Regions from separate parts of the Homo sapiens genome. Here region 1 is linked to region 2. The links come from fine-mapping of genetic effects on gene expression. A gene starts in region 2. The other region holds a variant in brackets. All regions are shown on one strand. Distances are from middle to middle. Region 1 overlaps LOC124906127 (a long non-coding RNA gene). Region 2 holds the start of COPS8 (COP9 signalosome subunit 8).

Region 1 (16,523 bases), 44 kb before region 2:
AACATTTTTAATCTCATAAAACGTGCTGCAAAATGTATTTCCAAAAAAGTTGAAGAGATTTCTTTTCCCTCCAACAATGTATGAAGGTGCCTATTGTATATACCCTCACTAGCTTTGGGCAATCTCACCTAAGCACAGCGGGGAGAAAAGAAAAAACAAGCTGCTATTTTAAAACAATTCCACACAACAAGATGTACGGTGTGATGGTACTATCCATCCACATATTTCAACAGGAAATCTCCTTCCCAAGCCCAAGGTTTATAGTTGTTTAATCAGGTGAACTGAAGCAAATCAAAGAAACAAAAAACCTAAGGTCCACTGATAGTTGAGCCATCCTAAATCCTATGGATTAGGACAGCTTTCCCTCAGCATGACGAATCCTTTCCCTTCCTTAGAGCTGTGTCTGAGGCTGGCACTGAGCCGCAGGCACAGGGGCAGGTGGCCGTCTGCTGGGCTCTCAGGCCACGGCCTGCGGTCGACGGGCAACCCCAGCCTGGGGGCAGCCTGTCACTGGGACCAGGCCCCACTCAGCTCCCATGAGCTGCATGAGATTTGTCAAGTGTACTTTGTACTCTGGACCTAGAGTGGCAGGAACGCAAGAAAGTGGGGAAGAGGGGCAGGAGGGGTGGCACTACTGGACTCTGACTACAGTGGACAGAGGTAAAATGCAGCTTCGGTAAAGGGACTGGAGAGTGTCTCGCCTTTCCCACACAGGCAGAATGTTGAGGGGTCCAAGGCAGAACACACAGTGACAAATGGACCTCAGGGACAAAGGGGAGGGCCGAGTAGCAGTGACGCCCTGGCAGCAGTGAATGCACCTAGTGCCCAGGCCTTGGACTCTAAATAACGATCTCCAGTTAAAGGAACCAGGGCTCCTGGGAGAAATGGCTGACACCAGGGCTGACACTGGGAATGAGCAAGATTAGCCAGGAATATTTTGTGGTGCTAGAGAGTAAGAAAGGGATCCAAAAATGACAGGGCCATGCCAGAACAGGGGCCAACCGGAAGGCTCCCCCAGTGACTGAGCCTGGGATACGCAGAGCAACAAAATGTATAATGATGGCAACACATGACAGTTCCTAGAATCTAGAAAACACCCCTGAGTCCACATGGATACGAAGAATAACTGAATAAATAAACAGGAGGGGAAGTTCAGCTCTAACTTCCAGTAGAATTCCAGTAGAAAGAATGATGGAAATAGAAAAATCATTACTCGGCAAACACCGTAGTACTCATTATTGCAGGCAAAGGTCGTTTGATGGATGCTAAAATTAGTGAGTGAAAGATTGATGAAGAACAGAGTATTTATACAGCCTCTAAGTATCCCCCAACCAGATACTTACTGATTACAAAGGGAAGAACAGAAACTTTACAGTGGAGAAACCTAGCGGACACCACTTGAACCAAATCGAGTTACCATTACTGGTAATAAGACATATTGACCTCACGTACCCACCAAGCACAATGCACTGAGAAGGGCACAGCGTTGCTCCTGGGGTACCCTTGGCAAAAATGCATAATTTCAGCGTCACAAAGAAAATATCCGCAAAATAACAGATGGGCTTTCATCATTGGTGTGAAGATTATAAAAGGCAAAGACTGAGAACTGTCCCAGATTAGAGGACCAGGGAGATCTGACAACTAAACGTGGGCTTCTGGATTGGATCTGGGACCAGCAAAAGGCCACAGGAAGGACACTGATGAAATCGGAATGAGGCCTACAGATTAGTTAACAGTGTTTTATCAGCGTTAATCTCATGTTAATAATTGAACTATTGGTTATCTTGGTATTAACATTTGGGGAAGCTGGCAGAAGAGTATAATACAATTTTTGAACTATTTTTGTAATTGTAAGTCTAAAATTATTTCAAAATAAAAAGCCAAAAAAGAAAACAAAAAGTGATAGAAGCAATTAATTGCTGCCACAACCAAATACTGTGTTTAGCTTTACTTCTTCCCCTCCCTTTTACAAGATACTATTTTTTTCAATAAATTATGTATTAAAGACATTTTAACATCGAAAACCATCAAAGACATCACTCCTCACAAGGCTATGGTCTACAGTAATTGGCTGTTTTCCTTTCTCTCCATGTCTATCTTGAAGAGGCGACAGGTTTTTAAGGCATATTTTGGACGGGCATTTAAGGAAGTCCTGTGCCCTCCCAGGGCCCCGGTGGGCAGCACTATAGTGGTCAGTCGGTTTTTCTGACTGCCAAGATCTTTTACCTGCTTAACGAATAATGTGCTTATTTGTTCCTTCGTTTTTAACTTTGTATAAAAATCACAAATTCCAAATTATCTCCACCTGTAAAAAGAATTAACTATCTCCTTTTTTTTTCAGAACTTTCTTCACTTGTTTTGTTTTGCATCAATCAATTAACGTTCTATCTGTCTATACACATGGTTCTTTTTCTTCCTCAAAAATGTCATTGGAACAAACAATATTGACTGCATAATGGTTCAAAAACACAGAAAAGCACAAAGAAGAAAATTAAAATCCCCTGTACTGTTTCCCCTGGAGACATCCATAGCAATACTTTATTGAAAACGTATTCCCACGTCATTAATCTAAAACGTGACTTTAATGGCTGCATATTGTTCCATTTTACGGATTGACGACTTACTCAAACTTCTATTGCTGAACATTTAAATTGTTAGAAATCTTTTCCTACTACAGATAACATTCTAAAATGACTGTTTCTGGTTTGTAGATATTTTCACATCTCTATTTAGATGGAGTCTTATAGTTGTAATTATAGTATTAATAAATATTTACTTGTTTAGGATATCAACACCCTTCAGAAAGATGGTCTTTTTTGAGTCTTCATTCTTGGTACCTTCACCAAATTAATTACTATTTTAAATCCTTGTCAAATTTATTTGCTATGGCTATGTTATTTAACAATTTACCAAGCACCCTTTATTGAATAGTATTTCTTTTCTCCACTAATTTAAACTATTATTTCTGTCTTGTCCTAAATACATATGTGTACTTGATTTTAGATTTTTCTCTTCATTTTCTCTTGTTTTTTTTTGCATCAGTATCACTATATTTTAATCAGTATACCTTTGATATATTTAGTTCAGTATTTGACAATGCCAATATCCCCTCATTATAATTTGATAAAATATCACTTTCTTGACTATTTTTATCTTTTCTTTCCTAAAGATAAATACTGACATGATTTTGTAGTTTCAATTTTTTTTCACTGGGAATCTGCTTTTGTTAATCACTTTGAGAAAATTGATATGTTAACAATACTTTGTCCTTCCTCAGGTCATGTGGGTTGGTCCCTTCCTTAAAAACTAACAAAATGGAGTTTATTTTAAAATCTCGGGAGTAAACTTAGCTTGAAGAGACTACATTTTTCTCGGGGTAAACTTAGCTTGGAGGGACTACATTTTTCTCGGGGTAAACTTAGCTTGGAGGGACTACATTTTAGTGGTGAGCCTTAGAACTAAAAGTCATCTAAAGTCAACAGGATTAACTAGAGAAAGGTCAAACTGAGCTAATTATATAAATCTTTGACATGCTGTCTTGATTAAAAAAGAACTTAAGCTAGCATTTATAGGCACACTTAGGAAAGTTAGTCTAGAATCTCACAAGAGTGTGCAATCAAGACATTTTCAGAGATTTGTCTGTGAGTTCCTACAGCTGAATTAGGAGCTGGTCAATTAGTTCTCCCAGCTGAAGGTCAGCTTCAGTGTCATGAACAATTAAGCCAGGGCTGTTGGATCACTTGAGTAAAATATGAAGTACAGACAATTTGAGAATGAGCTAATAAGGGAGAAGCTCCAACTGGCTATGGGTTTTATCATAAGATGAAGCAATGAGCAAAAGTCTAGATGTCAAGTTGGATTTTAATTGCATTTAGTCCCTAATCTCTGAATTTACTGTTTGGCATATACTTAAAACTACAGATGATTTCTATCACTGAGTTTCCACTTAATTTTCTTGCTCATTTACACTCTCTAGGGGTGCTGCAGATTACTGTGGTTCAGTTAATGGGGACAAATTTCTGTTCAACTGCAGCCCCAGGCCTGAGGCAACCTCAGGCTACAATAACCACCTGTAGAGAAAGGTGGGGAGGGTGCCTCAAGTGGAGCACAGCAAATCTGTTGTGTCAGCTGCGGCTGAAGTCGGCCCCAACCAGGTCAGCTGGCAATGGGAGATAAAGGCTCATCACCCTAGCTGGCTACAGAAGTCCAGGGCCAATGGCAACCAGAGAGGAAACTGCTCTGGCACAAGACTTCCAAGTCCTTGCTCCTGCTGACTAATTGCAGTTCCCACCTTGCACATCAAATTGCATTAAATATACCAAAAAGAGAGGTCAAGAATTTTTGAAGCTGCTTATTCTTTTACCTGAGATGAATTTCCCTTTGTAAGGCTAAAAGAAGCATTGAAAACTCATCAGTTTTGGCAAATGGAACGATGGCAAACAACCCATTCGGGAAATTTGAACCTGTGTGAAACAGAGCTCTTTCAAGAAACAAAAGAAAACTTACAGAAAAGAAATCAAGGTTAAGAAATTTGAACTGTATATTCTAAAAGAGATTTGAGGAGATAATATTCTTTCTTCATGACTGTTGCACTGATGCAATCTGAAAAAAAAAGAGAATTCTTAAAGTATTACATACCCAACTAAACTACCAATAAAGGAGGAAGGCAAAATAAAGACCTGTTAACAGTCAAAAAATCAGAATATTGTCTTCTATATGTAAATCATGAGGAGAGGAAAATGTGATTAGCAAAAATTCCTGCAAAAAAAAAAAAAAAAGAGGAAGCTAGGGAAAAGGAAGATATCAAATTCAAGAATCAATGGAGATAAATCAAAAATGCAATGAAAAGAAACTCCAGCATATAAGCATTAAGATGAACGACATATGAAGAGTAAAAAAACAACCCACAGGATGGGAAAGGATATTTGCATTCCATATATCTGACAAAAAAAATGATCAAGAACTTATGTAGAGCTCTGAAGAATCAATAATAATAAAATGCTAGAAACCAATCCAAAGGTAAAATGGGCAAGAGATTTTACAAAAGAGAGTGTCCAATGGCAATAAACATTTGAAAAGATGCTCCAATTTATTAGCTGTTAGAGTGGTGCGAATGAAAATCATTGTGATGTTACACTGTACATCCCTCAGAATGAATAAAATTTAAAAAACAAAATAGACAATACTAAATGTTGACAAGGATGTAGACCAAGTGTAACTTTCATCCACTGCTCATGAGAATGTAGATTGGTAAACCCACTTTGGAAAACTTCCATAGTGGGATGGCAACCCTTAGATCAAGGATTTGGAATCCCAGATCTGGCCTCTTCCTGCTGTTTAACAGAAATGTATTCTGGTGCTCTGTGCCTTGGGAACAGCTCTGTGAGAAGTTTGGCTTAGTGTCAGTCGGGTTCTTGGGAGGAAAAAGATGGCACACACAGGCTCTGCCTCCCTGGCAGCCCCATATGGGCCAAGCCTACAGCTGAAATCCCATTCCATGTCCTTGGCCTTTGTCCTTCTCGCCACCACTCAGGGAATTTGCGTTTCCTGTAGAGTTGCAACGTCACTCTCTACTGGACTGGAGGTTCTGCTTCCACTAGAGGGCAGTGTAAGAGTTCCACCCAAGTTGAGACTCCCGTCATTTTGGGTTCCTCATGCCAGCCAACCAACAGACAAAGAAAGGAACTGCCCTAGTGATATTTTGAGCCAGATAATTCTTTGTGGCAGGGTCTGTCCTGCACACTCAGCAGCATCCCTGGCCTCTACCCTCTAGATACCAGTAGCACCCTCCACCTCCAACTGGGACAACCTAAAATGTCTCCAAAAATTGCTAAATGTCCCTTGGAGGACAAAATTGCTTCTAGTTGAGAACCACTGATTTAAAGACATTGTCCCCAATGGTGGACAGATCACAAGGCTTTGGACAAATAAACTCTAGTTATGATATTGCAGAGTTTCGTTGGATCTGTTCTATAATAAGGGGCTGAGCAACAGTGAGGGCAGGCAAAATGAGGATTTCAGATCGACCTTCCCATAACTGCTTCCATAGCCCAAGGCTATTTCACCAGATAAGCTTTGGGTCATGCTTTAGTGCTAAAGGTAGTTTTTCCTGTAAAATTTATGAAAAAGATAAAGCTATATATTTTCTTAATACTTTAAATATATTTGAAACCACTTGGTATTAGGGAAAGAGAATGTACTAGAATCTGACAGGGGGAGTTTAGAATCCTGGCTGCACTGTTCCCCAGCTGTGTGAGGTCGAGTTCCTGACTTCTAGGGGTGGGGACAGGGGTGGAGGCAGCTTCCTCCGCCTGTAAAAGAATACCTAAGCAGTGGGCTTCTTGGAGGACTCAATGACAGAACACTTGGAAGCATTCAGTAATGCCTTCACTAAACACCTTTTCCTAGTTTAGGGTGTAGGGTTTCTTCTTGCCCTCTGTTCTTCATTTTGTGTGTCCATCTCTCTGCCTTACCATGGTAGATGAGACACATAACCTCCCAGGCAATGAAATCATTAGTCCTCCTGACCAAGGCAGAAATGACAGCTTCACCCAACTGGAAAATAGAACTTGAGACTTTTATAAACATCTCCGGAATTAACAAGGAATAACCCCTGACAAACAAGTAGGTGTGGTCCCCTGAAAAAAAAGACGGTTTTGTGGAGTCTCACAACCCACTCGGACCAGCCTGGCAGAGGAGGCAGGGCTGAGGGTGGGGAGGGGAGCAGGGCCAAGGTGACCACTGATTCTGTAGAACTGATGGAAATTGGGAGCCGGGTGAAACAGTCTTGTTTCAAAGCCTCTCCCTGAGAAAGCAGTTTGGGAGAAGGTAGAGGAAACAGAAGGAAGCATGTGTGTGTGCATACACACATGTACACATGCACACAGACATACACACACACAGACTCTCACAAAGACACACACATGCTAACACATCTGTTCATACTCTCACACGTGCACACAGGCACCCATACTCACACTCATGTACGTAGGCTCTTACACAAAAATTCTCACTGATTTTCACGCACACTTGCTCACGCAGACCCTTTGACACCCATATACATGCATACATATCTGCACACATAAATGCACATATGCACACACACACTCATATGTACACATACACCCATCACTCTCACAAACTTTCATGCACTCATATCACACAAGCATGTTCACTCACACTCACACACATCACACACATTTGCATGCACTCACATACTTGTGCACACATCACACACAGACATGCATTCACACACATCACATGCACTCAGAATCATACACTCACAGACTCACACTCGTGCATTCGCTCACACATCACATGCACACTTAGACTCATGCACTCACACACACAAACATCACATGCACAGACTTACAAGCACACACTGACATTCGCACATCATATGCACAGACTCATGCACTCACACACTTGCATATCACATGCACATGCAAAGACTCACATTCACTCACTTGTTCACATATCACATGCACACTCAAACACACATGCACACAATTACACTCACATCATATGCACACTCAGACTCACATGCACTCACACTGGCCCACACACATCACATGCACACTCAGACTCGTGTCTTCACACACTTGCTTACACTTACAAACATCACATGCACACTCAGGAACTCACACAAACACATCACATGCACACAGACTCACATGCACTCACAAACTAGCTTACACACAAACATTGCATGCACACTCAGACTCACAGGCACTCACTGACACTTGCACATCACATGCACACTCAGACTCACATGGGCTCCCACACACTTGCACATCACAGGCACATGCAGACTCACGTGCACACACACTCATTCACACAAATCACAGGCACACACGTGCTCACACAATTACACTCACATATCACATGCACACTCACAGACTCATGCATTCACAATCACTGACACATCACATGCACATTCACTCATGCACTCATACACTTGCTTACATTCACAAACCACTCACGTTCACGAACATGCACTCAGAAACTTGCTTACACTTACAAACATCACACTCAGACTCACATGCACTCATTTAAACTCACACAACACATGCACACTCAGACGTACATGCAGTCACTTACATACACATCACATATACACGAACACTCATGCATGCACACACTTGCTCACACACACACTGAAACATTTGCTTACATCAAACACACTGAGACTCACATGCACTTGCTCACACACATCACATGCACACTGACTCATGTACTCAAACGTGCTTACACTCACATCACCTGCAGACTCGTGCACTCATGCTCACTTACACACATGCCACACACACAATTCACACTTGCTCACACATATCACATGCAGTCACAGACTCATGTGCAGTCACAGAATTACTCATGCACATTACATGCACAGACTCACATGCACTCACACACTCACTAAAACACATCACACGCAGGCATGCACTCACACACACATCACATGCACATACAGACTCATGCACTCACACACACACTGCATGCACAGACACATGCACTCACTGTCGCTTACACTCACACACCACAGACTCATGCACTCACAGACACATCACATGCACACCCACATGCACTCACACTCGCTTACATATATCACATGCACACACACACACACTCAGATGCACATGCACTCAGTTATACACACACATCACATGCACACTGACATGCACTCACCCACTCATACACATCACACACACTGACTCACATGTGCTCACAAACTTA[CTTAT/T]ACATCACACCCACACTCAGACACATGCACTCGCTAGCTCACACACATCACAGACCCACATGTACTCACACACACAGATCACATTGACAGACTCACATGCACTCACATGCTTGCTCACACATATCACATGCACACTCAGATGCACATACTCACTTGTTTACACTCACACACACCCTCAGACTCACATGCACTCACACACACATCACATGCACTCACACACATAGATTACTTGCACACTCAGAAACGCACTCAGACATCACATGCACATTCAGACATGCATGCACTCAGTCACACCCAAACACATCACACACACTCAGACTCATGCACTCACACTCGCTTACCCTCACATCACATGCACACTCAGACACATGCACTGAGAAACTTGCTTACACTCACATCACACACACTCGGACTCACATGCACTCACACTTGCACATCACATGCAGACTCATGCGCTTACACACATCACACAGACTCGCACTCACACTCGGTCACATCACACAGACACATGCACTCAAAAACTTGCTTACACACATCATATGCACACTCAGACTCGTACTCATGCTTGCTTACACGTACAAGCCACATGCATTCACACATGCTCTCGCTCACACATCACACAGACACATGCACTCACAAATTTGCTTACACTCACAAAAATCACACACACAGACTCCCATGCACTCACATGCATCACATGCACACTCAGACACATGCACTCACACACTCATCACATGCACAGACACATGCACTCATGCTCACACATCACCTGCACAGTCACATACTCATGCACTCACACACATGCATCACACACATGCATTCACAAACTTCCTCACACACCACATGCACACTCAGACTCACATGCACTCACATTCGCTTACACACAATCACACCCACTCAGATTCACATATACTCACACATTTGTTCACACATGCCATGCACACTCACATGCACTCACACTTATCACACACAGCTCACATATATTCACACTCACCTCACACGCACCCTCACGCTCACTCTCACAAATATCACACACACGCACTCACACACTTGCTCAGAGACTCACATGCACTCAAAAATTTGCTTACACTCACAAATGTCACACACTCATGCACTCACACTCATCACACACGTGCTCACAAACTTGCTTACACCCACACATACATACACTCACACATTTGTTCACACAAATCACACAGACTCATGCACTCATACTTGCTCACACACATCACACTCAGACTCACATGCACTCACACACACACATCACACGCACACTCACAGACTCACATGCACTCACTCGCTTACAGCCTCCTCAGCTTTCATCCCTGAGGACGCCACCCCTGCTGCCCTGTGACTCAGAGGCTCACAAGGAAGAGGCACCACATGACGGATCTGGCAAGGTCCCTCCCCCTCCCGCCACCCCATGCTGAATGAATCACAGCCTCCTGTTTATTTAACCACTTCAAGAAGCTGGGTTTCTTCCAGGGGCTTTCTTAGGCAGCAGGGGGCATGCAGGGGAAAGGGGTGGAAAGAAAGCAGGGCCCTCTCTACTAGTGATGTAGAGAGGGGAATGCAGGGAGGGCGTGCAAGGAGCGTCCGTGGGGAGCTGGTGTCCCCATGTTGTGCGTGGGCCTTGGGCATACAGGGCCCATGTCGCAGCCCTCAGGGTCCCGATGGGGCCTCCTACATCCAGGACTGGAGAGGGGCTGCCACTTACACAGGAGTGTGAAGCTGCACTAGACTAGGGTCCTGGCCCCAAAGAAAACAAGAAGCTGGTTCAAGCCTGGTGCCAACACAAACCCTTTATCTGCCCTAAAAGTGAAGCTGAGGCCACCAGGCTTTCAGGTGGGCTTCAGCAGCCCCCAATGCTGATTCACACCTGCACCAGGCCTGCTGAGGGGGCTGCTGTCCCAGAGAAGGTGCGGCTTCGGGTTGTGCTTTAGTGCACAGACAGCAAGGGTACAACAGGAAGAAAAGACGCTGTAGGGAGAGAAAGAAGACAGGGGAGGGAAAGAAGATTTGATCCATGATTTCTGCCATGCAGTCAGTGCTTCCATACACAGATGTGTGCACACGTATATGTACGTAGGTCTTGATTTATTTGAGTATGAGCACATTTAGAATTTGGATGACACCAGAGTGGCTCAAGGCTTGCACTCCAAACTTGAAAGAAACAAATCTTTTTCTGTGCTAGAAAAATTTAGCCAATTAAACAAAAACACCAGTTCTATCTTTTTTTCTTGTAATGCTGAAGAAATCCATTTTGAGACTTGGGCATTTTTAATTTTCAATTTTCCCAAGTGCAGCAAATTTCTTTTCAGGGATTGACATTAAGGATATGTGGAGTGTCAAAATTCACATACGCAATGGTTCTTCAATTCTATTATGAAGTTAGAAAACAGATGAAGTACTTAGTGCCCCTCCCAATATTTGTCTAGACCAAACTAGACACAAAAAATGACAACAAAATAATTCAATTAACCAATACTTTTGAACAATGGAAAAACCTTCAGTTATTTGTGTTTTTAATTACAGGATGGATTTGTAAATGCCAAAGGTTCTGAATGTATTTTGAAGTTAATTCAATGATTAGTTTCTCCAATAAAACTTTTGCTCCCCTGGCAGACAGGAGCACAAGGAGAAAGAGGACCCTCGCCTTAGGGGTGACAAATGCTGGCATCTACGCACAGCCATTTGCTCTCATTGTCCCTGAGTTCTGGTTTCTCTTACCAATGTTTGCACATCCGAGTTACAGAGAGAAAGAAAGGAAAGCGCTGTAGCAGGAGCCGGGCTGTGATTTAGGCAGATCATATTCAGGTTGGTGTTAGCCAAATTCCATAACACGCAGACCCCTGGAGATAGGAAAAGGAGCACAGATTCCCTGAACAACTGATTCAACACACCAGCTCTGTTTGTAAAGCATTTCTATGCCCATAAACAGACCTGTGGATCTAGCATCCCAGCACTTTTACTTAGATGGAAAAAGTCTATGCTCTCATTCCAAGCAGGCACCTCCCTTCTTTCCTGTCCTCTGAGAAGACACACAGACAAGGGTGCTGGGGTTACAGCACAGGAGAGGTCGGAGGGTGCGTGGCTGGCACGTAACCGTCAGTGACTCTGAAAGGATATCTCCTGTCCGAGCCTTCAGCCTTGCCAATGTGCATGGGGCAAGCCCAGGGACTCTGCCAGCCCCTGGTGAGGGTCTGTGGAGACAGGGCCAAGAAACGGCTAGAACAGCCTCTCAGCCTGGCTGCTGAGCCTTGGTACGAGCAAATGTAAGGGGCGTGTGGCTGGTCCTGTCAGGTCAGCAGCCAGGGGACTCCAGGAGCCTTCCACAGCCAGGGCAAGCAGCTGCCCAAAGCAGAAGACACAGAACAGCCTGCAAGTCTCCTCAGCAGGCAGAAAAGTTGCTCATGGGCCTCTTAGCAAAAGAGAAGATGCTCACCAAATGTGCTGTTTTGGCTGAAGATATGAAAGCAAACCCAGTGTACCTTTGGAGGGAGAATATAGCTTCATGTAAATAGCCAGTAGCTTTCTAAATGTGCTCTCCAGAGCTCTGGGTTTCCTGAAAGTCCAGGAACGAGGCAGGAGCTTGGAGGAAATGTTCTTTGGTTTTCTATGCATGCATTGGTCTCTGAAGGGGCAGAGCAGCTCTGTGGCGCTGGACCCAAGACCTTTGGACCGTGGGTGGGGAGCGCCTGAAAAACAATAGCACGGAGCTGGGCAGAGCTCCCCTGGCCCAGCCGCTGTCTCAGGTTGAACATCTGAGACCTTGTGAAATGTTTGTAGGTAGCCAGATGGCCTTTGAAAGGATCTGGAGAAAAGGTCCCTTACATCAGTGTAAGGTAAACTCTGGGATGTATTTTTCTACCATTATCCCTGAACTCTCAACAAAATTGTATTAAAATATGTAGACTGGTTTCTGCTGTACTATGTTGGATTTGGGAAACAGGAGATGAGGTAGATCAATGTATCTGCCAAGGCCAGGGTGACGGCAGGACCAATGTCACTGAGAGAGCACAGCTTCACAGAGGAGCATGGTTTCATGTCAGGACAGCAGGGTAGCAGGTGATGCTCCAGACACCACTGGGAGACCTCTGTCAGGGGTGCTGTGCTTACAGCAGGCTGGCTTAGTTAGAGCAGTTCAAGGTAGCTCTGGCGGCAAGAGTGATCTGTTATATACAAAATGCGTAGAGATGGAAGGGCAATTAAGATTAAGATGATGACAGGCAAGACAGTTCAGATAGTGATTCTTTTGCTTTAAAGACATTGAAAACAATGGGTTTCCTTTCTAGATATCTTTCTTCCTACTCTAAGTTAAACACCAAAGAACAAATTCAACTGGAGAAGTGCGCCATCAAAGCATGCCTGTCTCTTTTCAGACGTCTGGAACTGGTTGGGGAATCAGGGCTCTGGGGGAGTATGGATGGAAAATCATGCGAGGAGTCATCGGGTGTCTGAGGCTGTTTTTCTAAAACCATAAAGACTTGGGTTCCCAAAGATGGTTTTGGAAGTTGAAGTATAAACCAGCCAAGGCTGTTAGAAGCCATGCTTCAGAGACTAGAAGACACTGTAATTTTTCTGCATCATTTTATAAACACATGCACATTGATTTTTAGGTCTGTCATACACACAGTGGGAGTCAGAGGACCTGATGTCCCCACACCAGAAAGCCAACTTTTCCCACTCTGAATGTCCCCGCATTCTCAGGAACAAACCTGCAGCAATGACCCCGAATGGTTTATCTCAGAGGTTTATTTTGGAACCTGAAGACCAGAAACTAGTTCAGTCCCTGCTCATCTTTCTCGCCCCGAAACCCTCTCCAGAGGAAGAAGAGCCCCCACTCATGTCATCCCCGCACACTGAGGGAGGCTGCGTTGGGCCCATCCCTCCAAGATCCACTCCACCCGTGTGGACTCCTCCAGGAATATTCTTCACAAGAGCAGTAGCTGCTCCTGGGAGTGCATTTTCTCTCAGATGTACCAGTGAGGGTCACCTGCATGAGTGGAAGCAAGACCATGAGATGCAGAGGAGGCAACCAAAGGGCTGCCCTTTTTCTGCACTGGCTCCCTGGGCAGCCTGTGGTGCAGCCCTGCCCTCAGCGGCAGCTCTGAGACATCGGACATTGCCTCTGTCACTTTACAGAGTACAGACTGATTATAGTTCAGGACTTCTCCCTTCTCTCCAATGCAAACAACACACAGAAAAAACGAACGGACTTGCTATTAAGTAAGAAGGAGGGGCACAGATGTAGCTCCCAGAATCAAAGAAAGGGATCTGCATGAGCTTCCAGTGCTGCTGTAACAGCTACTACAAATGCAGTAGCTTGACAATATCACATTTATTTGCTTAAAGTTCTAAAGGGCAGAATTCAAAAATGAGTCTCACTGGGCTAAAGTCAAGGTGTCAGCAGGGACATTTCCTTCTGGAGGCTTCAGCGGAGAATCAGCTTCTTTATCTAGCATGGTTTCGAGAGGATGCCTGCATTCCTTGGCCCATGGCCCCTTTTCTGTCTTCAAAGTGCATTGCTCTGACCTCTACTCCGCTCCCATCATCACGTGGCATTCTCATTTCTCTCTATCTCCTCCTGCCACCTCTCATAAAGAACTCTGTGATTATGCAGATGACCCATGTGGATAGCCCAGGGTCTTCCTTTTTTTAAGACCCTATCCTAGTCCATTTGTGCTGCTGTAACAAAATGCCACAAACTAGGTAATTTATAAATAATAGAAATGTATTTCTCACAGTTTTGAAGACTGGGAAGTCCAAGATCAAGGTGCTGGCAGATTCAGTGTCTGGTAAGAACTTCCTCTTTGCTTCTAAGATGGCATCTTGCTTCTGTATTCTCACTTGGCAGATGGTGGAAGGGAAAGAGGGACGAACACTGTGTCCTCAAGTGGCAGAAGAGATGGAAAGGCACTTTTGTAAGGGCACAGACCCATTCATGAGGGGCTCTGCTCCATGACTTAATCACCTCCTAAAGACCCCATCTGTTAATGTTGCCACATTGGTGATTAAGCTTCAACATATGACTGTTGAGGGGGCACATTCAGGCCATGGCAGATCCTTAACTTAATCACATCTGTAAAGTCTGTTTTGCCATGTAAGGTCTCATAGTTATAGGTTCCAGGATTAGGATGGGGACATCTTGGTGGGCCACTGTTCAGTTAACCATAGGTTCCAAGGTCAGAGATTTCAGGGACTGGACTCAGACACAGATCTCAGAGTCCCTGTTGGCAGGGGTCCCTCTCTTTGTCCCCAGTTTGCTGTTTCTCTGTGCGCGTTCATGATTTACACAGTTCTTGTACCCATTTCAGATTCTCCTGGTCTCATCTGTCCTTGCCGCCAAGATGGATTATCTGCAGGAACTTGGACCAACTTCACGGAACCTTCCTTATGTTCTGTTCATACTGCCCAGACCTGCCCTGGCTTCCCTGTTGCTCCTGAGGCAGAAGAGGCCTTTGGACTTACTCGGCCCCACATCTGTACAGTCCAGAGATGCTGGGGGAATTAACACCACAAAAGGTTGACTTTAGATCAATGTGAGACAAGTATTTCAACTATGATTGTGTATTTGTCAGTGCCTCTTTGTAATTCTGTGAGTTTTTTCCTTCATTTATTTGATAACATACTGTATAATAATGCACATTTTAAATTCTCATGTCTTCCTGGTTAACATTTTTATTTAGTCCTAATGTCGTGGGCTTCTTTGCTGGGGATTATGGTGTCAGCATCCTTTTAGGGATCATTTTTCTGCCTACCACAACTATGATTAACTTTTTGCCAACAATTTTGAGAATATAGGTGAAGTGTGTATTTTCTTGGGAAAAATCTGGTTGCTTATTTTAATTGGTAATACAGTAACACTTCCTTTTTGTTGATTCTTGATCTGGGATGTAAACATTTCTTCTTTCAGTGTTCAAATTTTCTTGTCATTTCATGTTATGTGTTTCTGTTGTAAAGTGTATATATATTTGAATTTTGTTTTATCATCCAATATGAGAGTCTGTTTTGTGAGTTTAGTTTCTTTATATTTATTGAGCGGCCATTAGCTTTGATTACTTGATACTTCCTTAAGTTGTGATTTCTAATGGCCATGTTTCTTTTTCCACATTTTTTGTTTCCTTCTTTTTTCCTTTTACTCCCTTAATGGTTTCAGAGTCACACACATTCTCTTGTCTACTGTATTATGTTCAGTATATTTGGCTCCTCTCTCTGCAGAGCTTCTGCTTCAGGAGGATTAGACTTACTGGCTCTATTGAGCCAGCCATAGCTGACTTTCTCTGGCTGATGAAACATATGTGAAAGTGACGGTGTCACTTCCAAAGAGAAGCAACAAGAGCCAGCACGTGGCTCCCCAGGTCTCTTCTCCCTCTGCTGAGTGGCACAGAGAGGCTGCTGGGTGGCCGGCATCCTAGAGTGATGCTGACAGAGAAGACGGCCTCTGCTGACCCCCAGTGGACAGGCAGCAGAAGCGTAAAAGAAACATTTGCTAGTAGTGTAAAGCACCAAGATCTGCAGGCCATTTGTTAGCGCAGCGTGGCTTAGCTTATCCTGACTGGTATGGTAGTTCCGATAAGCAAGTAGGAGGATTTTAAATGCCTTTATTTCACAATCATCTTAGATTGCTAGTTTAGACCGCTAAACTTTTAAATATAATTCAAGTGCTCTACAATGACTTTTCTGCTTCTAATAAATGTTTGACTATATTAAAATTGTTTATCAAAAATAAATTTGAAACTGTTCAATAAAAAGAGATTGATAGTTTAGATAAGGGTAGGGTTCT
Region 2 (16,523 bases):
CTCTTCTACAGGAAGTCCAACAAAGGCTGCAAAATCATCGGCGATGATTGAAGTATACGCTTGAGAGACCAGGGCAAAGGCGCGTCTCCTTGTTGCATCTATTGTGGGAGTGGTGGGTTGGCAGAGAGTGAACCAGGGAGCAGCATTTTCAAAGCACATTGTTAAATCACACCACTGTCCTTGTCTAGTTTTCATAAGCAAGGCCAGATGAACCCAAAGATTTCTGTGCTTATAGATACAAATACATATGCCCAGTATGTACGGGGGGTTCAAATATTGCTGGAAAAAAATACATTTCTTACACTTCCTCTTGGATGAAAAATCTCAGATAATGAAAATTACAAAGATGGAAAAAGGTTACTAAACACAAGGCTCTAACCCTAAGAAAATGCAGTATGTTTATGCAATGGGGATATAAATTTTACTTATCTTATTTCATTTACAAATGCTGGAATCAAAGGAGCAGAAAACTGATTTGCGTAATCAGCTGTCCTTTTCAAAAACGTCTCTAATACAGGACCACACCTGGGAGTTACAGAACAAATCTTGTAACTGGAGCATTCTTCCAAGTCTGCATCAAACTCTTGACTGAATTAAGGTTCAAAATCCTAAATTCCCACCTTGAAAGAATGACTCTAAGAAGGGACTGCCAAACAATACCAGCAACGAAAACTTTCCTGAAAGTGGCATTTAGGATTGTCCCCAGGCTTCCATACCCAATTAAATAAACTCAGGAGTACGGTAGAGTTGAGCACTGTGAAACCAGCTGGCCTTTCTCCCTGGGCATTGCTCATTGGTAATGCAAGAGCTCCTCCACCTGGTGGTCAACATGCTTAGGAAATATTCTGGATTTTACTTTCCATATTTAATAGGCCAGTGTACATATGTAAAACAAACACCCTAACATATTTAAAATCTTCTCTCCATTCCTGGGACATTGTCAAACTACACCAATTCCCCCAGATACCCTTTGTGCCAAACGAGTCCACTGGCTCTCAGACAAGTCTTACACCTTCTCCCCCTGGGGCTTTTGGTTTATGCTATCCCGTGGCCTGAAATGCCCTCCTGTCTGCTCTCTACCATTCCTAAGTCTGTTTATAATTCATTACGATCTCTGCCCTTCTCTAAACTCAGCAGTATTGTTTACACTTCTACTTTAACAAGCAACTTTCCACTACGGCAGACACTGTTCCACCTATCCCCTTCTTTTCAATTATATTCCAAACTTCTCGACAGGAAGGGGTATCTCTTATCCTCAAAGTCCCCCAAACACCTAGCATCTCCAGTGAAATATATGCCAAATACATGCTTGTTGATGGCATCACGAGGACCAAAATGGGGCACGACTCCAACACTTAGGCTTTGTTTTCTCAGATTCCTTAAAAACTGCCGACACTCCCATCCCTTCCCCTCATCTGAGCCCGACATCCTCTCCAGCTTTCACTCAGCCACTGTCTGCTCTTCCTTCTGTGGCTTTACACTTATTATTGTAGGTTCCTTCCTTCCTTCAACCAGCCTGTAACCTAACAGACTTTGCAATACCAAGAAACGTTTTCTATTAAGGCTGCATACATTCAATGGAAAAGAACTGAGCCAACAATGGAAAAGAGCCAACAATGGAAAGTATACTTTTTTTTTTTAGAGAAGTAAAAGTATACACCATAAAACTATATTCATTTGGTAAGTCAACTGTATTTCAAAAACATTTACTTCAGTTCAAATATTCTGGCCATATTTTCAGAGTGGGGAATAAAACAGGAATACAGTAAGAATGGAGGAGATAAAAGGGAGAGAAAAGTAAAAAGATATCACTGGAAAAGGAAAGAAAAACATGTGATGGGAGAAGTGAGTTGACAAAGCAAAAATAAAGGCTAAGTGTTCTCTGTCTCAGAAGCTGCAATATCCACTTGGCACGAATCACATCTACATTCCGACTAGTCACTCTGTGATCCTCAAGTTGTGAAATCTGTAACCTCAGGCCCTAGAATGACACGCTGGAAGGTGGAATAAATTGAGCCAGCACCTAATATCTGTGGCAGTAGTTGATGGAACACATTTTTGGTGAAAACAAATGCTAACAGAATGCAAACTCAGTTGTTCAACAAATACTCAAGTGCTGCTCATCCATCACTGCCAGTGCTGGAGACAGAAGGGAAGATGAACTAGTCACTCCCATCCTTTCGAATCCTCTTCTGTCTTTCCCAGCCATGCTGTGTGCCAGGGAGGTTGGCCGCCAATGCCTGTTGCACCTGAGCTCTCTTGCTTTGGCGAATTGGGGCTCTATCAGGTCAGAGGCTGGGAAGGAAGGTCAGGGAATTCACTTCCTATGCCCTTTCCCTGCCTTGCTCCAGCTGACCTTCTGTATCCATCCTGTGGGGCAGCCCCAGTAACACTGGCCCCTCGCCTTGCCCTTTCAAGCCTCAGATGAGAATGGCTACTGTCTACCTAGTTTCTAAGTACTTCCTCAGCCCTTGTTTCCTGCAAAAATAGTTTTCACTAGCTTCTCTTAAGTCATTTTCAGTTTTCTAATAGGACTGTGCCTAATTTAGAAGAGAATGGAAAGAGATCTAAGAAAGTGATTGTTCTCAACTAGAAAATAAGTTTCTAATAAGTTAAGAAGCAAAATGTTAAATTCATCAGTAAGACCAATCTGTTAAGAGACTATCCTGACCTGGCTGCATTTTACAAAGGAAACCACAGTACCATTCATGAATCTGGAGATTTGTAAAAGTCTCAGGATATGTTCAGGAATACTGTAGTGCTTTAGAATAAGGTACATGTTTATATATTAACTCATTTACAACCTGAAAAAGTACTATTTCTAATCACATTTCACAAATGAGGAAAATAAGACACTGAGGAGTCACCCTAGTAAGTGACAGAATCAGAATTTGAACTCCGGAAGCAAGGACCCAGAGCTTAAACTCCCGCATGGTACGCTATATAGCCTTTCCTGGGTCTACTGAACTGCTTGCCAGGAATTCTCAATCTCATGGAATTCAGTGAGAGGCGGCTCCGGGAAGGAATAAAACTACGGACCCGACGGTGCACAAGAGAATGCTTGCTGAACGAGTAAGGAGTTCCCAAGCCCAGTCCTGCCAATCAACCCGCTGTAAAACACTGGGAAAAGGCACATGGCCTGTGACCGCCCCACCACAATCACAAGGCTGAATCACGAGGATACTATGGAAGTCCACTATAACGCTAATTCCTCAGGGCTTATATGAAGAGGTTTCTGGTGCTACTTTCTGAAACTGCCCCTGCTGTACCTGTGCAATCTTCTTCCACACTCCTCCCTTCCCATCTATCTGCCTGCCTTAGGACTCTGCTCATTTCATTCACATTTAAAGTAGCTGCCTCCTGTTCTGTCACTTACATTGTTATGTTTTATGCTGCTAAGAATTTTACCATTCCAAGGGAATTATGTGCATTTCAGAAACAATCTCTGCTGTCTGCTGCCCTGTAAAGCTGATATCCCTTAGCAGAGTGATGAACAGTTATTAAAAAAATTCCTGCTCACTGACTTCCTCCACAGCAGGAAGGCATACAGTGAAGGTGGATATTAACTATGGAAGTAAGGGTAACAATAAGAAATAACAGTACATGACAACATAAAACAAGATTATATAATTTTATAAAGAGTGAACCAGGAGGACTGGAAGCAAATGCTAGGGGTGAGAGACTGTAGAGAGGCAGGGAATGAGATTTTATTGTGGGATCAGTGCTCTGTCACACCAGGCTTGTAATCTTTCAAAGCAATTAAAAACACATTTGAGCATCTATGTATTAAACTGATAAATTATAAAATCCAGAAGCTTAAGACAACACCTATCAAAGGCTGAGGCTGACAAAATTCAAAGAGCAGTCTCTATTTTCACATCTCTACAAACCCATACCTTAAACTTATTAGAATATTACAAGATCTCGTTTTAATAGCAAAAAAAACTCTTAAAACTGACGAGCAATTTCTGTCTAGAATTAAGAAACAACAAAAGCACAGCAGCCAATGTAATCTCAAGCAACAAAAAATGAAGAAGCATGATTAGGGCAAATCTAAAAAATTCTGAAAACTGCTCTTTTCACCTATCAAAAATATCTACTTAAACACACACCACTGATTTATTACTTCAACACTGCAGCACTTAGGGACTAAGTCTCATCTAATTTCATTTTTAACCACAAAGAAACACTACCTCTAAGTGCTTCCATAATTGGCTGGACCGTCTCAGACCACTGGTGAGCGTTGATGGTTGTATAGATCCCAGGGAAATCTCTCTGCCAGATTCTTTGTCCTACTGACCAAATTCCCCCAAGTTCAGAATTTGCCTGCAATAAATATTATTGCCTTAGAGGGTATTCACTCTGTAAATGCACCAATGATTGTATCTTAAAACAAAATACCAGAAATGATATAAAAACTTGTTAGCTACATCATTAAAACCTAATTCAACATTTATTTTAAAAGATGCAATTACTTTTTCAGCCCAATCACTATCAAAAGGTTTTTAAACACTATGAGCAGTAAGGTAAAATTTATCTGTAGGGCTGATATAAATTTATTACAATAGCAAATTAAGGCATGAGAAAGTAGTCAAAAAACATTTCAGAATTAAGCCTGGGGACTAATTAGCTTAAGGATTGTTTTTAAAGATGTTGTATTTGTATTTCATAGATATATTATGAATATATATTTAGGTCAAAAGTAATAGCAAAATGGTTAACAATAGAGACTCTCAATCTAAGATGTCATACATTGTAGCCTCTCTAAGGATTGAGTTTCCACTAACGCCATTGAAACTTATGTGCATGATTTATAGTACTTCTTTATTTAGCCAAAGAAGCTGAGGAATATTCCAATCTTACTTAACAGAACAGAATGTATGAGGGAAAAAAAAAGAGTAAAAATACTAATCCGATCTCTTGATGAATATCAATAAACAAAAGTTTAGATGAATTCTTGGTAATATCCCGAGAATGTTAAAAATTTCACTTGACACTCATGTTAGACACATGGAATCATTTGACATTAAAATTTTACTTCATTCCACTTTGGAAGAACCTTTTCACAGGCTATTTCTTCTAATCTCCCAACCAAAATAAGAAATTTAAAATCCTAATTAACAAAAATAATCTTATTGCTGTCAATCATTCTTAGAGTATTCTTGTAAACGATGGCAGTTTCAAAATAAGTACCATTATAGGAAGCAACATAAACCAGCTGAAAATCACCTCAGCTGCCTCCGCCACCTCCAGGAGCTTCCTTCATCTAAACTGGCTCAGCTGTTTAACTAGGGAAGCTGCACATAAAAGCGTCTCAAGAAATCTAATCAGTAGGAACTGAGCAGAAATTCTACACCATCCCAGCAAAATTCAAATTTCTGATTAGAGGACTCTGAAGATTTATTTCGAATCCTTAATACCAATCTGATGACTATTACTAGGACGTCAGATAGAAAACATAAGCTTATAAAAGGTTGCCATTTAAGGGAATGTCATTACATTAAAGCAGTAAAATAGGTTTAAAGGATACTTACAGATTTTATAGCAGGTGGTATTCTTTTCCAAAGATATCTTGCATTATTCCTAATTTACGCCACCACAAAGAAGAATAATCAATTAAAAACATAATCATCTCAGGAAATGTTAAAAACTACCAGGTCCCAAGCCAAACATACAGAAGTATACTTCACATAACACAAAGTAAAATTTAGTTTTATATGAATTTGTTTTGGGGAAACAATAGTGGTTTTCCAGATAAAAAGGACATGAAATATTTTTACCAAAGTAATATTTTGCCATTTCTAGTGAATTTTTTAAAAATAATAATCCATATCCTAAATTTAGGCAACAGCACACTAAAAACACGAGGATTTATAGACGGCCCAAATTATTTATTAGGATATAAAAGTAAACAAATTTATGTACTATCAAGGCTGTAGCATTCCCTGACAATAAGCCTGGTACACAACACTTCTCTCCCGATTACAGCCCCTCCTACCAGTGGGACACAGCTTCTGAGGCAGGAGTTTTTATGGGTTTGGAGGCTTGAACTACAACAAACATATAATGACAGTTTTACAAAACAAAAACAAAAACCTTACATATGTGTAATAAAAATTTCAATTTAGTTTTTAAAAAGATATAAAAGAAAGGTTTTGGAAGAGTTTAAAATAAAATGTTATCAGGAATCATCAGTGAGTCACAGAACTATAGGAGACTTTTTTTTTTTTTTTTTGCAGTTATGCTTTCCTTTTGAGACAGGGTCTCACTTTGGTTGCTCAGGCTAGAGTGCAGTCGCGCAATCTTAGCTCACTGCAGCCTTGACTTTCTGGGCTCAGGTGATTCTCCCCACCTCAGCCTCCCAGGTAGCTGGGATTAGAGGCACACGCAACCATGCCCAGCTAATTTTTTGTATTTTTAGGACAGACGGGGTTTCACTATATTCCCCAGGCTGGTATCAAAACTCCTGGACTCAAGCCATCCACTTGCCTTGGCCTCCCAGAGTGCTGGGATTACAGGCGTGTGCCACGGCGCCCGGCCTAGAGTAGTTATGCTTTCTGACTTTTCCATGTGAACGTGAAATAGGAATAATTAAAAACAAAAAAAACTTAAAAAATCTCATACATGTTTGTAACGAATTCCTCTTGGCTGCAATCTTCTCTTTTCACTTCTTTTGTTTTATTGATTATATATGAAGTTAAGTAAATAGAGGTCATAAAAGTTTCTTAAAAAGACAAAAAGGTTAAATGAATTTACTGACGTAATTTGTCATAATAAATTGAAATGTTTTCTAGAAAGTATATGTAAGACAATGACGACCTAATCATAATTCATTAACCTATGATTCAATAGGAAATAGACGTTAACAATTACTGTAATAAAAAAGGTAGCTCGTTGTGCCTATGTTTAGTGGTGCTACTTCAGTGCAGAAATATTTCCATATAACTTTGAGAAACCTGTTGCTCTTAGCTTTAGGTTAAACATACTTACATGTCATTATGGAGCAAATATAAAGCTAGAAGCTGACCATACACTGGGGGTGTAGCAATTCCTCCAGGGGCCTAGAAGGCCAAAAATGAAAACAAAACAAAACAACACAAAATTTTAAAAACCTCATTTACCCTTTAACTTTCATTTTTAAAATAATATTTTATAAATGCTAATTTTAAAAGTAAGCCTTTTTAGTCTAAGACTATAAGTAATCTTATAGTCCTATTATAGATTTAGAAACAGCTTAGAGAAGTATCAAACACGAAAATTCTGAGTATTAAGTTTATATTCGTCATCAGCTTTGATTTATCTCCCTTTGGGCTTCAGTTTCTTTATACATTCAAGAATATGTAAGTGGATCCCCTTCCCCAGTTCTCAAATTCCCATTTAAATGATCTTACTATTATAAGAAACAAATTCGACAGATTCCTGAAGCATTCTGATTCTGCCCATTACATCAAGCGTCCTGAATAAGAGACAGAAAATCACCACAGCTGCGTTGCAAAGACAATTCTTTCCATTTTAACTCAACTGGAAAGTATCTATTATCTATTAGTGAGCTGCTGCTTCTGGATGTTGTCTCCTTTATTTAATTTTAAAACTAATGATATAAACCCTTTTTAAGTGTCTAAGAAAAACATTAACTTTAACAGCTGCATAACTTTCATCTGTCTTACTGAAGACAAAATGGCAAGCTAACTTGACAACATTACGAGAAAGGCTTTGTGAGTTAAAAAAAGGTTACAATGGTCACATTTTTCTTGGTGTGCGTGTGAGTTGCGGTGTGTGTGTTAGTGTGTGTGTGTATACCAAGATCTTTAATAAAACCCACTTTACTACCCTCTCCCAACCCGATACTGGGAAGGAAAGATGCCTAATTAATATGAGCTCATCGGTAGGTGCTGGAGCAAAGACGCACAGGGTTTTCGGGCTCACAAGCTGAAGACACATAACAAAAAGGTCCCGGCGAGTTCGGGGAGACCGGGCCCGGTCGGAGCAGGTTGCGGCGGTCAGGGATCCACACGTCCACCTCCCACGCCCGCCCCGTGAGCTCCCAAAGCCCGCTAGCCTCAGACCCCGTTACCCTGGAAACTGGTGCCGCCCCAGGGCCTAAGACTACTCCGCAGTTTCTCCCAGCGCGACGCAAAGGGTTACCTCGAGCTCCTGGTTCTCGCACTGATCCAGCAACTTTTTGAAACTAAAGGCGCTTTCCGCCATCACCGCCACTGGCATCTTCGCGGCCGGCCTCGCCGCTGCACCGTCCGGACAGCCAAACCCCAGACTGTCCCTCAGGCGTCGCGCCCGCGATGACGTTTAAAGCCGCCGTTGCCGCCGAGCGCCCCTGCGTACCAGACCGTCAGTTCCGGGGCGCCGTCAGACATCGCTGCGGCCGGGATAGGGCGCCGCCGTTCTGGCCGGCTTTCTCGGTGCCCTGGAGGACCTGGCCGGCTCCGCGGGAAGCTGTACTCAGAGCGCGCGGCCGCCCTCTGGCAGGGAGGAGTTCGTTGCACTTTTGAGGGTTCTTCACGAAGACATCCAATACATAGAAAACAAGTAACAGCAACAGTAACGAATTTTTAAATATTAAAATTGCTGGGGAACACGACGGATCCTGCAGCTGCTCGGCTGTCCCGGTCGTCAGTGACGCTAGGGCTCCGCACCGTACCCTGCATACCGTAGGTGCTCACGAAACGTTCGTGAGTTCCCTGCTCTGAGGAAACAAGCTTAAAAACTCAGAATCTAAGGTGTGAGTCTCCGCAAACCTGCTTGTTGGGCAGCGTCCCCCGCCCGGGCTAGCCCTGCACGCCCCACCCCGGAGCCACGCTTCTCCAGCCGGGACCCCTGCCTCCTTCCAGGCTATTCTCGGAACCGCAGCCAGAGGGAATTTTTTTTTCCTTTCCTGAAACGTAGAGCAGATCTGGTTACTCTTCTGCACAACGCCCTAAAATCTAGGGCCCTTCCCATCCCTCAGAATTTACATCTAATTCTCAGCTCCCCTCCGGCTTGCTGTAGCCATCCTGGCTTTTGTTTAGCACAGCACTTACTGTTAGTGACATTATATTGTATATTATTAACATATTTGTGTTTTACATCCCTCACTAGACCCCCAGGAAAGAGGCTTTGATGTGTTGCCTGCTGCAAGGCTGGCTGCATAATTTGTGGAGCTCAGAGAAAAGTGCGGAGCTTCCTTGTTCAAAAAACAGAAAGAAAGTGCCTCTGAGGTCATAAAATATAAAACTTTCTCTTTCCTCTCAGTTTCTCTCTTTTCATAGTGTTTTTATGTGTTATTTAATATCATTCCAAGAAAAATTTAGATTTAAATTGTTAGCATGAAGTTCACCATCCATCTTTACGTTGTGCAATGCCAGTTTTAAATACTAATATAAGTGCACTGATCTCATATGTGGAATCACAGAAATTATGCAATTTGTACTTCATAGCTTATACATGCATATAGATTTTGTTTTTACCAGAACCACGCTGGTAAAAACAGATGCTGCACAAAGTGAACTTGCCCGTTTTCATCGCACTTTACGTGCACGAATTCTACCTCTACTCTCGACCTGGGACTCACCGATGCGTAAGGAAGGACTGAAAAGCAAAAGAACTATGGACTGGCCTTTTGGCATGATCAGGTGTCTAATATAAAGAAGTGCATGAATAAGAAAATATATGATATGAGTGATGGTTAATACTGACTGTCAACTTGATTGGATTGAAGGATGCAAAGTATTGATCCTGGGTGTGTCTGTGAGGGTGTTGCCAAAGGAGATTAACATTTGAGTCAGTGGGCTGGGAAAGTTCGACCCACTGTTAATCTAGATGGACACCATCTAATCAGATGCCAGTGCAGCTAGAAATGTAAAGCAGACAGAAAAATGCGAAAAGAGAGACTGGCCTAGCCTGCCAGCCTACATCTTTCTCCCACGCTGGATGCTTCCTGCCCTCGAACATCAGACTCCAAGTTCTTCAGTTTGGGACTTGGACTGGCTCTCCTTGTTCCTCAGCTTGAAGACTGCCCATTGTGGGACTTGTGATCATGTGAGTTAATACTTAATAAACTCCTCTCTCTCTCTCTATATATATATATATAAATATATATATCCTATTAGTTCTGTCCCTCTAGAGAACCATGACTCATACAATATGGTTTCTTCATGCTTCTTAAGACACCATTGCCTTCTTTCTGCCTTCGAAACAAGTTTACTCTCTTAAGGGGAAAAGTGCGGCCTTTTGGGGTGTCAGCACCCAGCTCCCTCAGTTGTAGATACAGCACGAGTACCTTGTGCTCACTTTGAGTCTTGCTGGCCTCGCAACATCAGGGGTCCACAGGGAATTCAGTGTGCATGGTGCATTATGAATGCTGTATGGAACATCAGTGGCCACACGTAGAGGCCCGTTTCCCTGGCTCATGCTCCATTGTCTTAATGGACCTCACTTACAAACCACAAGTTTACAGATAAAATTATTAAGCATTTCAAGACAGAGACAGCCATCCTTGATTTTTTTTTTTTTTTTGGCGTAATCCACAACATCTCTGTGTGGAAATGATTGTTTAGTAATTCCCTGAATGAAATGTAAAGAAAAAAAAAAACACTTGTGTGTTCCTCAAGGAACTGCCAACATTAAATAGAAGGGCACATAAGTAGTTAGCAGAACTAGAGAGATCTTGGAGTAATAAAGCAACAGAGTTTCATCCACGGCTGCAAGGAAGAGAAGGACTGAGGGCAGTATGATTCTAAGATCACTTGACAGAACTATGAGGAGCAGGATTTTGAAGCTTGTAATAATGGTCTCTAACCCTTTTCGGGCAAAGAAATATTCAATAGAAGCCCTGCTTGGCTATTTGATCATTTAAAGGGAAAACTATAATGTGAACGCTTTGGCAGGTGCTTTGGGCCTCTAAGAGGTGGAAACCTACAAAGGTGGCTGTTTGCTGAATAGGAAATCCCGGTGAGGCTTTTGATACATATCACAGGTTAGAGGTGGAGATGGGGTGTCACTTAAAGGACTAAGCTGTTCTTTGGAAGGCCAGTACAGGAATTTGGGAGTTGGAGCCTGGATGCCAGAGAGGGTAGGAGGAGAGTCCTTGGGGGGCAGAGAGGAGTCTCTGGGAGCAGTTGGGGTCTAAGGTGAGACCCTGGCCTGGACACTGGGAACTCCAAGTGGCAGTGAAGCACTGAAGCGTCTTCAGGGCTGTGATGGTTGACATTCAGTTTTAAGTTGTCACTGTACTGTGCTGGAGCCACCTTTCCCCCCAGACTTTTGATAGTAAATGAGAGAAGTGAAGGGGGACAGGAAAGAGCAGTGTGGTGTAAAAGGCTGTCATCTCCGGAGGTGCGACTCAGAAGAGGGATCGAGACTGGGAAGAAGCAAGAAAGTCAATGAGAGGCACCCACAAGGACCCTCTGTTCCTGGAGATGCTGGCTTTGGAGTGGGAAGGACTGCGTTTCTCTCTGCTCTTGCAACGAGGGATGGGGTCAGCGTGCTGAAGGGAATCATGCACTCCGGAGGCTATAGGATGGGGGTCTCAGACCCATTACCACACCTGGTCTTCTCCTTGTGCAAACTGGCCCTTGTCCCATAACTCTTCTCTGGGAGAAGCACAGTGATTGAGGAGGTTGGAAATTGTACTAGGATGGCTGATGCAGTTTGGATGTTTGTCCCCTCCAAATCTCGTGTTGAAATGTGATCCCCAGTGTTGGAGGAGGACCTCATGGGAGGTGATTGGATCATGGAGATGGATCTTTCACGAATGGCTTAATGCCATCCACTTGGTGATGAGTGAGTTTTCACTCTAGCAGTTCACGTGATATCTGGTTGTTTAAAAGAGCACGATATCTCCTCCCTCTGTCTTGTTCCCTGTCTTGCCATGTGGCATGCCTGCTCCCCCTTCACCTTCTACCATAATTGGAAATTTACTGAGGTTTCCCAGAAGCAGAAGCCGGCACTATGCCTCCTGTACAGCCAACAGAATCATGAGCCAAAATAGACCTGTTTTCTCCATAAATTACCCAGTCTCAAGTATTTCTTTATAGTAACGCAAAAATGGACTAGCACAATGGCTAATTCAAAACTCTGAAATTTGACGTTTTTTGGTCCTATTTTCTGCCCTTTCAAAGTCTTCTTCTCCATTTGCTCCTGGGAACTATAGAGTCATTTATTATGAATAAGGTCCCTGAAGAAGTGATGTCACAAGGGCCTCAGGTGTGCTCCCGCCAGTTTCACACTGGTTGCCCATTTGCTTCGGGATCACAGTTTCCATGGCTGGGTCTAGGACCACATGATCTGTCTGATTCATGTCGTGAAGAAACCACAGCAAGCATTCATCAAGTGGCCCATCTCCCTTCCTGGGGCTCTTTGGCCCATGAACCTGCTCTTGAAGCTCTGGGATGTGGATGAGTCGGCCAGTGTGGGAGAAAGAGTGGGAGAGGAGAACGGATGATGAGCCCGGGTCACCTCTGTGCCCACAACACTCCCATTGTGTCGGTCTGGATTGTAGCAGGAAACATATGGAATACTCAGTGTATTCATCTGTTTTCACACTGCTGTAAAGAAATACCCAAGACTGGGTAATTTATAAAGGAAAGACGTTTGATTGACTCACAGTTCAACATGGCTGAGGAGGCCTCAGGAAACTTACAATCATGGCAGAAGGGGAATCAGGTACATCTTACATGGAGGCAGGTGAGAGAAGAGCAAAGGAGGAATTCTCAAACACTTATAAAACCGTCAGATCTCGGCCGGGCGCGGTGGCTCACGCCTGTAATCCCAGCACTTTGGGAGGCCAAGGTGGGCGGATCATGAGGTCAGGAGATCGAGACCATCCTGGCTAACATGATGAAATCCAAAAAAATACAAAATTGGCTGGGTGTGGTGGCACACACCTGTAGTCCCAGCTACTCAGGAGGCTGAGGCAGGAGAATCCCTGGAACCTGGGAGGTGGAGGTTGCAGTGAGCCAAGATCGCACCACTGCACTCCAGCCTGGGCAACAGAGTGAGACTCCATCTCAAAAACAAACACACACACACACAGAAAAACCCCGAAACCGTCAGATCTCATAAGAACTCACTATCATGAGAACAGCATGGGAGGAACTGCCCCCGTGATCCAATCACCTCCCTCCCTTGACACATGGGGATTACAATTCGAGATGAGATTTGGGTGGGGACACAGAGCCAAACCATATCTCAGATTGGGCAATTTGAGGAAAATTTAATAAAATGGCTATTTACAAAGGTATTGGCAAGATACTGGAAAACTACAAAGGATAGTACCCCAGGGCTCACAATAGTTGACATCATTACCACCCCTAGAGTTTAAAAAGTGCACGAAGGGGAGTTCCACTTCTGTGGAGACACTTCCCACTGAAACAACCATAGCTGGAGAAAATTTCTAAGAAAACTTAAAAGTTTCTGGAAATTATCTTAAAGGTATATAAAAAATGAAAAAAAAATTTATTCAATAAAATCTATCACAACTTGGTAAGAACAGAGAGAGTGTGTGGCATTTGAGCCATAATCTGCTCTTTCCAGCCCCGCACCTAGCTCAGCTTCATAGAAGCTCCACTGTGGGTGGATGTGGTCAAGAAGATGGGGCTCACTCTCCCTTCCTCTATCAAACAAGGGATAAGGTGTCTCACAAGAAGGCGAAGGTTGCAAGCATTTCTCATCCACTCCAACTCCAAGTTTAACGCTAAATTCTAGCTAACTGTGGCCAAGAGGCAGGAGGCTCCCTTCCTCCACCAAGCTCCCACTCATGGATGGAGACTATACACTAGGCATAACAGGTCTGGAATACAGGGGTCCTAATTGCCCTCACTCCAGCTTGCTTTCTGGGGTAAACATATATTCTGTGTCCAGTAGAAAAGCTGAGAAGATCAGAGGCTACCATTCCTGCCATGTGCCAGAGTAATGGCTCTGGCATCCAAAAACCAATCAGTGTAATAAGCCATATCAACAGAATAATGGATCAAAACACACGTTCATCTCAATAGATGCAGAATACATATATAAAACAAAATCCAACCTCCTTTTATAATAAAAACACTTACTGAACTAGGGAGAGAAGGGAACGTCTTCAAACTGACAAAAGACACCTATATAAAACCTGCAGTTAACATTACATTTAATGGTCAATGACTGATGGCTTTTCTCTATGATCAGGAGGAAGACAAGAATGTCAGCTTTTGCCATTTTTATTTAACAGTGTACTACAGGTTCTATCCAGTGCAATTAGGGAAGAAAAATAAATGGAAAGCATCCAAATTGGAAAGGAAGTAGTAAAGCTATATCTATTAAAGATGACATGATCTTGTATATAAGAAATTCATCAAAAAAGAAAAAAAAACAGGTAGAACTAATTGTGAAAGGAAAATAAATCTTGGTATCCTAAACTTACTAAGCCAAAGGGAAAAGTCAGGCTGGGAAGTGGGTCATGCAAGCCTGCCTCCCATTTTGGTTCCTAAATAAGATGGCTACACACGTGAAAAGCTACACACCTCCCCTGTGGGCCCCAAGATCTTTACCCTAAAGCATTTATGTTAAAGTTCACCATGGCAATGTAAATTAATAGCTTATCTTCACAGGTGCGGGGACATAGGGCATAACTCAAAGCGATCCCTCTGCCCACCTGAAACAAATGCATATCTGATTTTTTCCTCTCCCCTATCCTCTGTGTTATCTTAAGTAAAAATGCATATTCACAGAGCCAAAGACACGAATGACTCTTTTCCTCCCCCGCAACATGAAAATTGTGCATTTCTCAATATCCCACACTTTCCCCTTTAAACATTGAAGCTCTCAAAATCATCTCTCGAAAAAGGCATAGACATGTCTCCCAGGCACACCCTTAACTTTGGCAAATACACCTCCTTAAAATGATTGAGACTTGCTTTGGTCATTTTCCTTGATTGACATAGTATTGGGTCCAGCGAGGTTGCAGGATACAAAATCAACATGCAAATATCAATTTTATTTCTGTATATTAGCAATGAATAAGCCAAATATGAAATTAAGAAAACAATTTCACCTGTTATATTAGTCCATTCTCACACTACTATTAATATAAAGAACTACCCAAAACTGGGTAATTTATAAAGAGGTTTAAATGACTTAGTTCTGCACACCTGGGAGACCTCAGGAAACTTACAATCATGGTGGAAGGTGAAAAGGAAGCGCAGACCTTCACACGGCAGCGGGAAAGAGACAGCAAGAGCAAGAGCAGGGAAAACTGCCTCTAAAACCATCAGATGGCTGGGCACAGTGGCTCACACCTGTAATCCCAGCACTTTGGGAGGCTGAGGCCGGCAGATCACCTGAGGTCAGGAGTTCGAGAAAATCCTGGCCAACATGGCGAAACCCCTGTCTCTACTAAAAATACAAAAAAAATTAGCTGGGCGTGGTGGCACACGCCCGTATTCCCAGCTACTCGGGAGGCTGAGGCACCAGAATCACTTGAACCCGCGAGGCAGAGGTTGCAGTGCACTCCAGCCTGGGCAACAGAGTGAGACTCCTCAAAAAACAAACAAATAAAACAACAGCAAAAGAAAAACCATCAGATACCTTGAGAACTCACTCACTATCACAAGAACAGCATGGAGGTAACTGCCCCCATGATTCAGTTACCTCCCCCCAGGTCCCTCCCATGACACATGGGGATAATGGGAACTACAACTGAAGATGAGATTTGGGTGGGGAACACAGCCAAACCATATCACCTGTAATAGTATGAAAAAGAATAAAATACTTAGAAATAAATATAATAAAAGAAGTGTAAAACTTAAACTCTGAAAACTACTCAACAATGTTGAAGAAAATTAAAGACCTAGGTAAATGGAAGACATCCCTTGTTCATGGATTGGGAGACTTTATATTATGATTGCAATACTAAAATTCACAAGCTGATCCTAAAATTCATATACAAACTTAAGGAATGCAGAATACCCCAAAACAGTCTTGAAAACAAAGAACTATGAGGATTCATACTTTCTGATATCAAAACCTACTGTTAAGCTACAATAATAAACATTAGATAGACATTTCGGTAAATGGATAATAAGAGTAGACATAAAGATCAATTAAATAGAATTGAGGATGCAGAAATGAGCCCTTGCATTGATAGTCAATTGATTTTCAACCAGGGTATCAAGACCATTCAGTGGGGGAAAGAACAGTCTTCTCAACAAATGATGGTTGAACAACTGTATAGCTACATGCAGAAAAATGAAGTTGGACCTCTATCTCAGACCACCTACAAAAATTAACTCAAAATAGATCTAAGACGTAAGTGTGAGAGCTAAAACTATAGAAAAAAATAGGATAAATCTTTATGTCCAGGCATTGGGCACTGATTTCTTAGATATGACACCAAAAGCACAAGGAACAAAAGAAAAAAATCGATAAATTGGACATTATCATAATTAAACTTTTGTTCTTCGAAAGACACCATCAAAAAGTGAAAAGAACCAAGAATTGAAGAATATTTTTACAAGTCACATGCCAGATAAAAGACTTGAATTTAAAATATATTG

What was found.
Region 1: its variant is fine-mapped to the expression of COPS8 in whole blood (TOPMed, PIP above 0.99).

The regions. Positions count from the first base shown.
Region 1 is chr2:237,122,065-237,138,587 of GRCh38, reverse strand. It overlaps LOC124906127 (a long non-coding RNA gene), which reads left to right. Exons shown (of 2, transcript XR_007088143.1): 2 at 1-4,780. Among named protein-coding and RNA genes, the nearest start is that of COPS8, 44 kb to the right of the region's middle. RefSeq lists enhancers at 1-468, 469-972, 9,927-10,486, 11,464-11,978, 11,979-12,494. The variant CTTAT/T (reference allele first, on the strand shown) is at 8,734.
Region 2 is chr2:237,077,665-237,094,187 of GRCh38, reverse strand. COPS8 (COP9 signalosome subunit 8) reads right to left here and starts at 8,299. Exons shown (of 8, transcript NM_006710.5): 1 at 8,146-8,299; 2 at 6,991-7,061; 3 at 5,535-5,583; 4 at 4,194-4,326; 5 at 1-98. The coding sequence starts at 8,223. COPS8-DT (COPS8 divergent transcript) reads left to right here and starts at 8,367. Exons shown (of 3, transcript NR_187934.1): 1 at 8,367-10,032. RefSeq lists enhancers at 7,464-8,358, 8,169-8,718, 8,359-9,253.